Linked DNA regions of Homo sapiens: region 1 is linked to region 2. The links come from fine-mapping of genetic effects on gene expression. Tissue or cell type: T cells. Region 2 holds a variant in brackets; the other region holds the start of a gene. All regions are shown on one strand. Distances are between the middles of the regions.

Evidence for each region. PIP is the estimated chance that this variant, and not a neighbour inherited with it, causes the effect. A credible set is the group of variants that fine-mapping cannot tell apart.
Region 1: it holds the start of SDCCAG8, and the variant in region 2 is the best candidate, but not a certain one, in a credible set for the expression of SDCCAG8 in T cells (TOPMed, PIP 0.56).

The regions. Positions count from the first base shown.
Region 1 is chr1:243,254,242-243,258,503 of GRCh38, reverse strand. SDCCAG8 (SHH signaling and ciliogenesis regulator SDCCAG8) reads right to left here and starts at 2,463. Exons shown (of 18, transcript NM_006642.5): 1 at 2,264-2,463. The coding sequence starts at 2,330. It overlaps CEP170 (centrosomal protein 170), which reads left to right and starts at 3,223. Exons shown (of 20, transcript NM_014812.3): 1 at 3,223-3,464.
Region 2 is chr1:243,286,385-243,290,646 of GRCh38, reverse strand. It overlaps SDCCAG8 (SHH signaling and ciliogenesis regulator SDCCAG8), which reads right to left. Exons shown (of 18, transcript NM_006642.5): 5 at 4,250-4,262. Among named protein-coding and RNA genes, the nearest start is that of SDCCAG8, 32 kb to the right of the region's middle. The variant C/T (reference allele first, on the strand shown) is at 1,936.

The DNA.
Region 1 (4,262 bases), 32 kb after region 2:
GAATCCAGGAGGCAGAGGCTGCAGTGAGCCGAGATGGCACCACTGCATTTCAGCCTGGATGACAGAGTGAGACTCCATCTCTAAATAAATAAATTATACTACTCAAAAATAGCAATTTATATTTGTGAAGAACTTCTGACTGTACTTAAGTTCAGAGTTAATTCTGTTTTGTTTCCTTCCAGAAGCTGTTATATAAGCTAACATACAAAAATAAAAGTGCTACTAAATAAATGATATGTCCTGAAAAACCCATAAACATTTCAGGTTACATTTCCTGATTCACTGTTAAAATTATGAATACGTTTTTTTTTAAGTTGTTTAACTTTTTCTATCCTTCGTATTTGCTCTTGGTGAAATGTTTCCACTACCTTATATTGTTATCACACTAAATTTAAATTTTATTTCAAACTAATTTTAAAATGTATTATCCTTAAATGAAAACCCTTCATTCTGTAATTATTGAAAGCAGTACCACTAGTATTAAACATATTACTATAACATTAATTTAAAATGAACCCCTTTACTGCGTCAAAATGCCTAATGTTAAACAGCCTCCGACAATTATATAAAGACTTAAAATAAGGTCAAAGGAAGAGAAGCATCAGGAAAAACTTTCAATGAAAACAAAAAATTTTTGCCAATCTTAAAAATTACAATTACTCATATCATTGTGCACAGTATTTTTCTTGCTTCCAAATGAAAAGTTAGAAGTGCTTATTTTGTATCTAACAGCTCTTGAAACATCAGTAGGTTGAGGAAGGTGTTCATTAAAACCGATTTTTTTACTCCTGCAGTTTGAATACTGAGAATGTCGACAGTTTGTTAACACAATTGACAGATGTAACAATACATAGTAACCCTTATAAAATCTAGAGTCATGAGAAGATAAACTTTCTAATATTGAAAAACCTTCACTTTGCTTTAAGTAACAAGTATAAATAACAATTAACATTTAATGAGTGCTTGTCTAGTAAGCACTGATCTTTACCCTTACTTTCTATCATAGTAATCTATAATTATTTTTTTTTTTTGTCTTTCTCCCCAACTAATCCAGAAGCTCCATGGGGATAGGAACTTTGTCTTGTTCCTTACTGCATGCCTAGCACCTAGTATGCTTAACACATAGTAGGAGGCACTGACACATAGTAGGCATATTATGCAGAACAACACATGCTTCATAACTTAGTATTCTCAATGTCGCAAACAGTCATGACCTAGAGGCTTATGAAAATGCAACAGAATAGAAAGCAGAGTTTATTACATTTAGTAGAATAAAAATTCTTCAGTGAAACTTATAGTTTATATGTACACATATGTCCCATATAAAATTTATTTCTTACTATAGGTAAACATTTTAAGAAGTCTTAAAATCACTGCTTTATGGGGATTATTTCATTTGCTCCCCACAATAACCCTATGGACAATTCCATAACTTCCATTATAACAGAATCGAAATTTCTAGATGTTATATATGCTGTCCAAGTTGACAGCGCCATCTAAAAGTACAGACATTAAGTCCAACAGAGCTTAAAGGAAAATAAATACAGACATTATTTGTACAGATACTTGCTCATATGGTAATGTGGTAAGAAAATCTAAATTAATAAGGTTTTGATAATAGTAATTATGGCTTGATTAGTAAATACAAACATAGGCTTTGAAGGCAAGCCTGATAATACCTGGCTCTGCAACTAACCAGCTGTGTGGGCTCTGGCCTGTAATTCAACCTCTCTGAGCTTCGCTTTCCCCATGTGTAAAATATTCACACGATTGGTGTAAGCTGCAGATGATTTACTGTATGTAAATAGCCTAAATCAATTAAAAGGGGGCTCTTGTGATTAAAATAATTATTAGTGTTTCCCCCCACTGATCCCATAAATCACATTCAATCCACTGTGCCATAATTTAAATGTGTAAAAACTGTGAATCAGACTTTTATTGGATTAAATAGCAACGTATGGGAACTGAACAAAAATGGCATAGAGCTATCCAAGAGTTTCTGCTGTCGCCGGTTGAGAAAGATGCCAAGTTAAGATCAAGGAGTTGATTGAGGTAACTACGGGAATCTGAGGAAACATCGTTGCTTAACTGTAAAAACTAAATCAAACTATTTCATCCTCCTCAAGACCACAGCAACATCCATCTTGCTCCTCTGTAGCGTGGACGGGGCAGAACCCAGGTGTTAGGAAACGCACCTGGTCTGCTCCCGCCCACTAGGCCCTGGGCACCTCGGGGCTAGGGACAGAGGTTTGGAGCAACTCACCCCGGAGACTCCGTTGATACTGCCCCAGAATCTCCTCCAGGGTAGAGTTCTCCGGGGACTTCGCCATGCACGCACTCTAGGCCCAGAGCTGGGAGTTACGTGGGGAAATGTCCAGCTTTCTCCCTTCCGAGAACAACAGGCCTGTGGCCGGGGAGCGCCCGCCTGCTTCCTGCCGCGGCTGTCACAGGGGAGCCTAGAATCCCGCACAGAGCTCTTGGGGGCTCTTCCCACCCACTGGCCCTCGCTTTGCACGTCGGGAGTTGTAGTCCTCACGTTCAGAACCTGCAAGCTCGACAATCCTCAGGGCCTTCCAGTTACACTACAATTCCCAGAAACCACTGCGCTCCAGGCGCTAGCTTGGACGGTTTGGCTGCCAGAGCCTGCTGCCAAGAGACAGGCTTGCAGGCCCCGCCCTTTTCCTCCAGCCCAGCCTGGTTTAGTCCCGCCTCCATCCCACTCTTCAGCTGCCTGGACCACCCAAATGACAGAAAGGGCTCACTGAAGGCCTTGACGCTTCGAAATTTGCTAATATGCAGCAGTTGATCCCCAGGCTACTCAAGGACGCAGATAGTAAACTCTGAACCCTGCTTCAGTTGCGAGATTTTTTAAAACGGTCGAATAAATCTTCAAGAAATAGAAGCTCTAAATCTTCCAAACAGCCTAGATTGTAAAGGCGGCCGACACTACAACTCCTAGCATGCCCAGCAACCGGACCTTCACTTGGAGTTGGCGCTCTGCCCGCTGGGAACTGTAGTCCTTGTTGGTTGCGGTCCCACCTAACGCCGAGGTCCTCTTCATTGTTCAAGCTGGTCTTTCGGGGCACGCCTGCGCAGTGGGCAAGCTGGAAAAGCGTGTGGGTGAGACCCTCGCACAACCCCTTTTCATTGTCTGTGTGTGGCGCCTGCGCAGTAAGGGATCGTTGGAACTGGGCAGGAGGGGATAGGGTCCGGCTCCTCGCCCTTTCCCGAGGCGCCTGCGCACTAGGCAGTCGGTCTTTGCCGTTACCGCTATGTGTGGGGCGTGTGTGGAATAACGTTATTGCCCAGCGGAGCTGAGGGCCCCGGAGCTCGACCGCAGCGGCAGCGACGACAACAGCGGCGACGACGACGACGACGAGGTGGGGGGAGGACGGCGTGCGAGAGACTCACGGGACGCGACGCGCCCCGCCTCCCCCGTCCGGTCCCTCTCTCCACGGTAAGGGGTAAGTGATGCGATCGGCTGCTCGGTGTAGGCGCCGCAGCCGCAGCCACCGCCGCGGCTGCTTTCCACATCCTGCTCCTCGGGTTTGCGGCGAGGACTCGGGCGCCGCCCGCCGCGGGGCGGGGGTGCGGGGCTGGACCGCGAAGGGGGCGCTTCCCGGGTGCTCCGCGCGGCGCCGCCACCCCCACCCTCTGCCCGCCTGGGACCCGGGGCTTGACGGGACCACCCTTCCCATCCCCCACCCGCCGCCCCCCGGAGCTCCAGTCCTGCGGCCCCCCGGCTTTCCCGAGCCCCTTGCTGCCGCCTCCGCATCCCCTAAGTGCATTGAATCATTTTCAGCTTTCGACTGGCTTTGTGCAGCCCTCCCCCCTCCGCCGTAGCAGTTTGCGAGGGGTGCGGGCGGAGCATTGGAGGGAATGGCTGCGCTGCCGCTGGGGAAGGGATTTTTCCCCCATTGGAGCAGCTCCCCGGGCCAATCCCTTTTGTGTGATTGGTTTTGGGGTGTGAGGCGGTTGGCGAGGTCAGGCGAGCAACCTTTTGGACGCGTTGGGAGGGCGTGGAAGACGCGGTGTCATGCACCCTGCCTGGCGACTGCACCCCGTGGAGGCTCTGGCTCTGTAGTAAACCCGGGGGAGGAGAGAGTGGCTTCCTGTCGGCTTCATTGTCCTAGGATTCAGATGTAGGGTTTTGGTACGTTTCGCTTCCATTTTATGCAAGCGATGAAAAAATAACATTTGCAGCTGCCTAACACAGGGCGGGAAGACGTGGGATTTGTATACTAAGTCACAGAATCTCTGTT
Region 2 (4,262 bases):
TCTCAGAAAATTCAGCATTACTAGACGTCAAAACATAAGGTGATGAATGTCAGAAGATGAAGCTAAAGAATCAAGTAAGGGACTTGAGAGTATACCACACCATGGAATGAGTCTGCACTTGATTCTCTCGGTAGAGTCAAATCCCCTAAGATATGATTGCATTTAAAGTTGTTTTTGAGATCAATGAAGGAGGGTGGTACTAATTTTCTATGGAGAAATTGGAGGGAGCATGTAGACCACAGATCACTAACTTATGATATAAAATATTATCATTCTTTGGAAAGAATTGCTAGTCTAACGGACATTTTGTTCTTTCACAGATAGTTTTAAAAAACTTGAATGCTACTTAACCAAGATGTTTTTAAAAACCTAAGTATGTTAAATCCTTGAAGATCATTCAAAACCTTTGATTTCTTAATTGGGTGGCAGGGGATCGGGGGGCGGGAGCGGTGGTAAGACAGGGGATGAAAACAAACGTGAAAAATATTGGCCGAGAAATTTTCTCCTTAAGAAAAAACTCCTGGATCTTTAAAGAAGGACACATGACAAAATGTTGAATAAATAACATGTTTTCGTATTATTTTGATTTTGTGAACTCTAGAGAAAAGCTTTCCATGAGGAAATATTTTATGAGAAGGCAAAGTGATGAAAAATCAGGACAGGAATGAAATATACTTTGAATGGCTTGCTTCTTTAACTTCTAGGTCATAAACTAGACCAAAAGTTGAAAGTCTTACAGGCTACCATCAAAGTCCAGGGCTACAAGCAGGAGACAATAAAAAGGAGATTCTTCTCTTTTCTGCCAGGGAAAACTTCTATCCTCTGCAAACAAAGATGGTTTGGTTCAATGTCGACAAGCTCTTCCTAACTTATGCAGAAAGGCGGTATAATTTAAGGTTCTACGGGGTGTATTTAGAGAATTAGATAGTCCTGGGTTTGAATCCTTGCTTTGCCATTATCTAGCTCTGTGACATTAGGCCAATTACTTAGGTTACTTAACAGCTGTGTACCTTAATTTACTCCTCTGAAAACAGAGATAATAACACCTGCCTTGTGTGGGTACTGCAAATCTGAAGTAATATAACGTAAATAGTTTGACACAGTGCCTCGCACATTATAACCATGTAGTCATCAATAAATGTTAGTTATTACTATATGAGATGGTTAATACTGAGTGTCAACTTAACTGGATTGAAGGATGCAAAGGATTGATCCTGGGTGTGTCTGTGAGGATGTTGCTAAAAGAGATTAACATTTGAGTCAGTGGGCTGGGGAAGGCAGACCCACCCTTAATCTGGGTGGGCACCATCTAATCAGCTGCCAGCGAATATAAAGCAGGCAGAAAAACATGAAAAGGTTAGACTGGCTTAGCCTCCCAGCCTACATCTTTCTCCTGTGCTAGATGCTTCCTGTTCTTGTACCTCAGACAGCGGGTTCTTCAGCTTTGGGACTCAGACTGGCTTCCTTGCTCCTCAGCTTGCAGATGGCCTGTTGTGGGACCTTGTGATTGTGTCAGTTAATAAGTTAATACTACTTAATAAACCCCCTTCATATATATATATTATATCATATTAGTTCTGTCCTTTGAGAGAACCTAATACACCATATAAATGTTTCAATTATCTTTTTTTTTTTTTTTTGAGATGGAGTCTTGCTCTGTCGCCCAGGCCAGAGTGCAGTGGCGCAGTCTCAGCTCACTGCAAGCTCTGCCTCCTGGGTTCACACCATTCTCCTGCCTCAGCCTCCCAAGTAGCTGGGACTACAGGTGCCCACCACCACGCCCGGCTAATTTTTTGTATTTTTAGTAGAGTTGGGTTTCACCATGTTAGCCAGGATGGTCTCTATTTCCTGACCTCGTGATCCACCCACCTTGGTCTCCCAAAGTGTTGGGATTACAGGCGTGAGCCACTGCGCCTGGCCACCTCAATTATCTTT[C/T]TTAAAAGGCATTATGAAACACTGAAAATCTATATTGAAATCAGCAAACTTCAATATAGCAAGGGAAGATTTAGCACCAACATTTTAATTGACTCATTACAAAAACCCCTTCCCCCCAAAAGAAGATATTTCTTGATTTTTTATATTTAAGATATCCTAAACATTTTTATTCATGTTACAACTTGTAACACAGCACCATGCATGTATTATTGAAATGTCTGGTTTTTTGTTTGTCTTGTTTTTATTGAGGCAAGGTCTCACTCTGTTGCCCAGGCTGGAGTGCAGTGGCGTGATCAGGGCTTACTGCAGCCTTGACCTCCTGGGATCCTCTGACCTCAGTCTCCAAAGTAGTTGGGACCACAGGTGTACATCAGCATGCTCGGCTAATTTTTTTTTTATTTTTAGAGAGATGGGGTCTCACTATGTTGCCCAGGCTTGTCTGGAACTCTTGGGCTCAAGTGATCCATCCGTTCGTGTGATCATCCTTCCAAACTGCTGAAATTACATGCGTAAGACACTGTATCTGGCCTTGAAATATTTCAATTCACTTACACAGGTAAAACGTGGGGGTAACAATTCAACAACAACAAATAACAGAAGATTAACATTAAAATAGATATCAAGGTCATCTGGCATATCTGCAGTAATCATTTCAATACCTGCATTATATTTAGCTCACATGAATGTTTAAAAAACAACAAAACCTCTCTAAAACCTTATCCTTTCTATGATTCTGACTGTAGTTTTGTTTAGCACATTTTCTTTGCTCATGCTGCAAGGCATGTGTGCTCTGACCATCATTTCCTTCCCCTTTTGCATTACTCATTTCTCTTGCCCTCTGATTCACTTGTCTGCCTAATTTCCTTTCTCACTTCACTTCCCCTTCTTCCACTTCTTTGGCATTACATAAATACTGAGGACTATGAATAATTGAATCACTGCTTGCTAAGTGACCACGTGTTTGGAAGAAAAGCAAATGAATATTTTTAAAATAAGCTACTTCTAAGTATTTTCTATATGGTGATATCTTCCTCAAATTGACATTAAAATCATAAGCAACTAAGATGGAGTTTTTACCACTAATAATTATACAAATCTTCAGGAAAAAGTTATACAGTGAGGAGAAAAGAACTGATCACAAACTTAAATGCAATTGCAGAAAATTAAACTGAAATACTAATTAGCCCACTTCATTTATCAGAGTTAATACACTCCTATACTTCTCAATAGCAAACCCTAACATATACAACTCCAGGATTATAAACCAACTATCAATTCAAGTTAAAAAAAAAAAAAACTTCAAAAACGAAAATTAGAGGATATCCCAATGAAACATCAAGACTTTCATGTTTTCTTAACAGCTGATTTACTAATGACGACAAAGTCAAAACCACCAAAGTAAACTGCAAAGTGAAGCTGGAATAGGCAAGTATGAAAACTTCCACATGGAAAGTTGAATTTGTCCCAAAAAGCAGAACAAGCTGTGACTATATCTTATAGCAAAACAGTTACAAAAAGTTTAAGACAAAAGTACTCTGATAAGTCATAAGATTTAAGCACTATTTAAATGTCACCACAATAATTCTCTGTCACAGAATTATAGAGATAATCTGACCCAACGTTCTTCAAACTCTGGGCCACTGACATTAGAATCACTTAGGCAACTTGATGAAAGTTTAGATTCCTAGAAGCCAACCAGACCAAGTGAATCAGACTCACAGGGGATGGAGTCCAGGAATTTGCACTGAAAACTCCTGGTATAGGTTAATCTTCTCAAATTACCAATAAAGAAATAAAGGACATACGTGATTAAGCTATGTAAAACCTTCTAAAATTACTTGCTAAACACCAGCCTTCTTAGGGAAATGGGAAGACTAACATTTTGATTCTTGGATCCTAAGGCCAACATTTTTTCTGCTACATCATGCAGCTAATTAGACTTATTAGATTTCAGACCTCAAGGAAAATTTAGAGAAATCCAACAGAAATCTAAGTTAAAGTTCTGAACGGTTTCTAGACTTAGCAAAGTCCTTCCTGTATAACACACTTCCTGCTTTCAGACCGGCTCTTTCCATATGGTAAGGCAGAAACGGTATGCTCAGAGAGGAAACTGTAGCAAAATATCACAAGATCGTTTCATCTGAGGATTCATTCCACCACAGTGAAGTTTGATATTTGAGGTCTCAAACAAATACCAACATAGTACTTTGGCCACACTTCAGGGAGAAAATCTAAGCAGCGAAGAAGGCGAGGAGAGAGGGCAGAAGGGAATATTCACACTAAAATAAAATTTATGATTTAAAATAATGCTCACGGATGCATCCAGA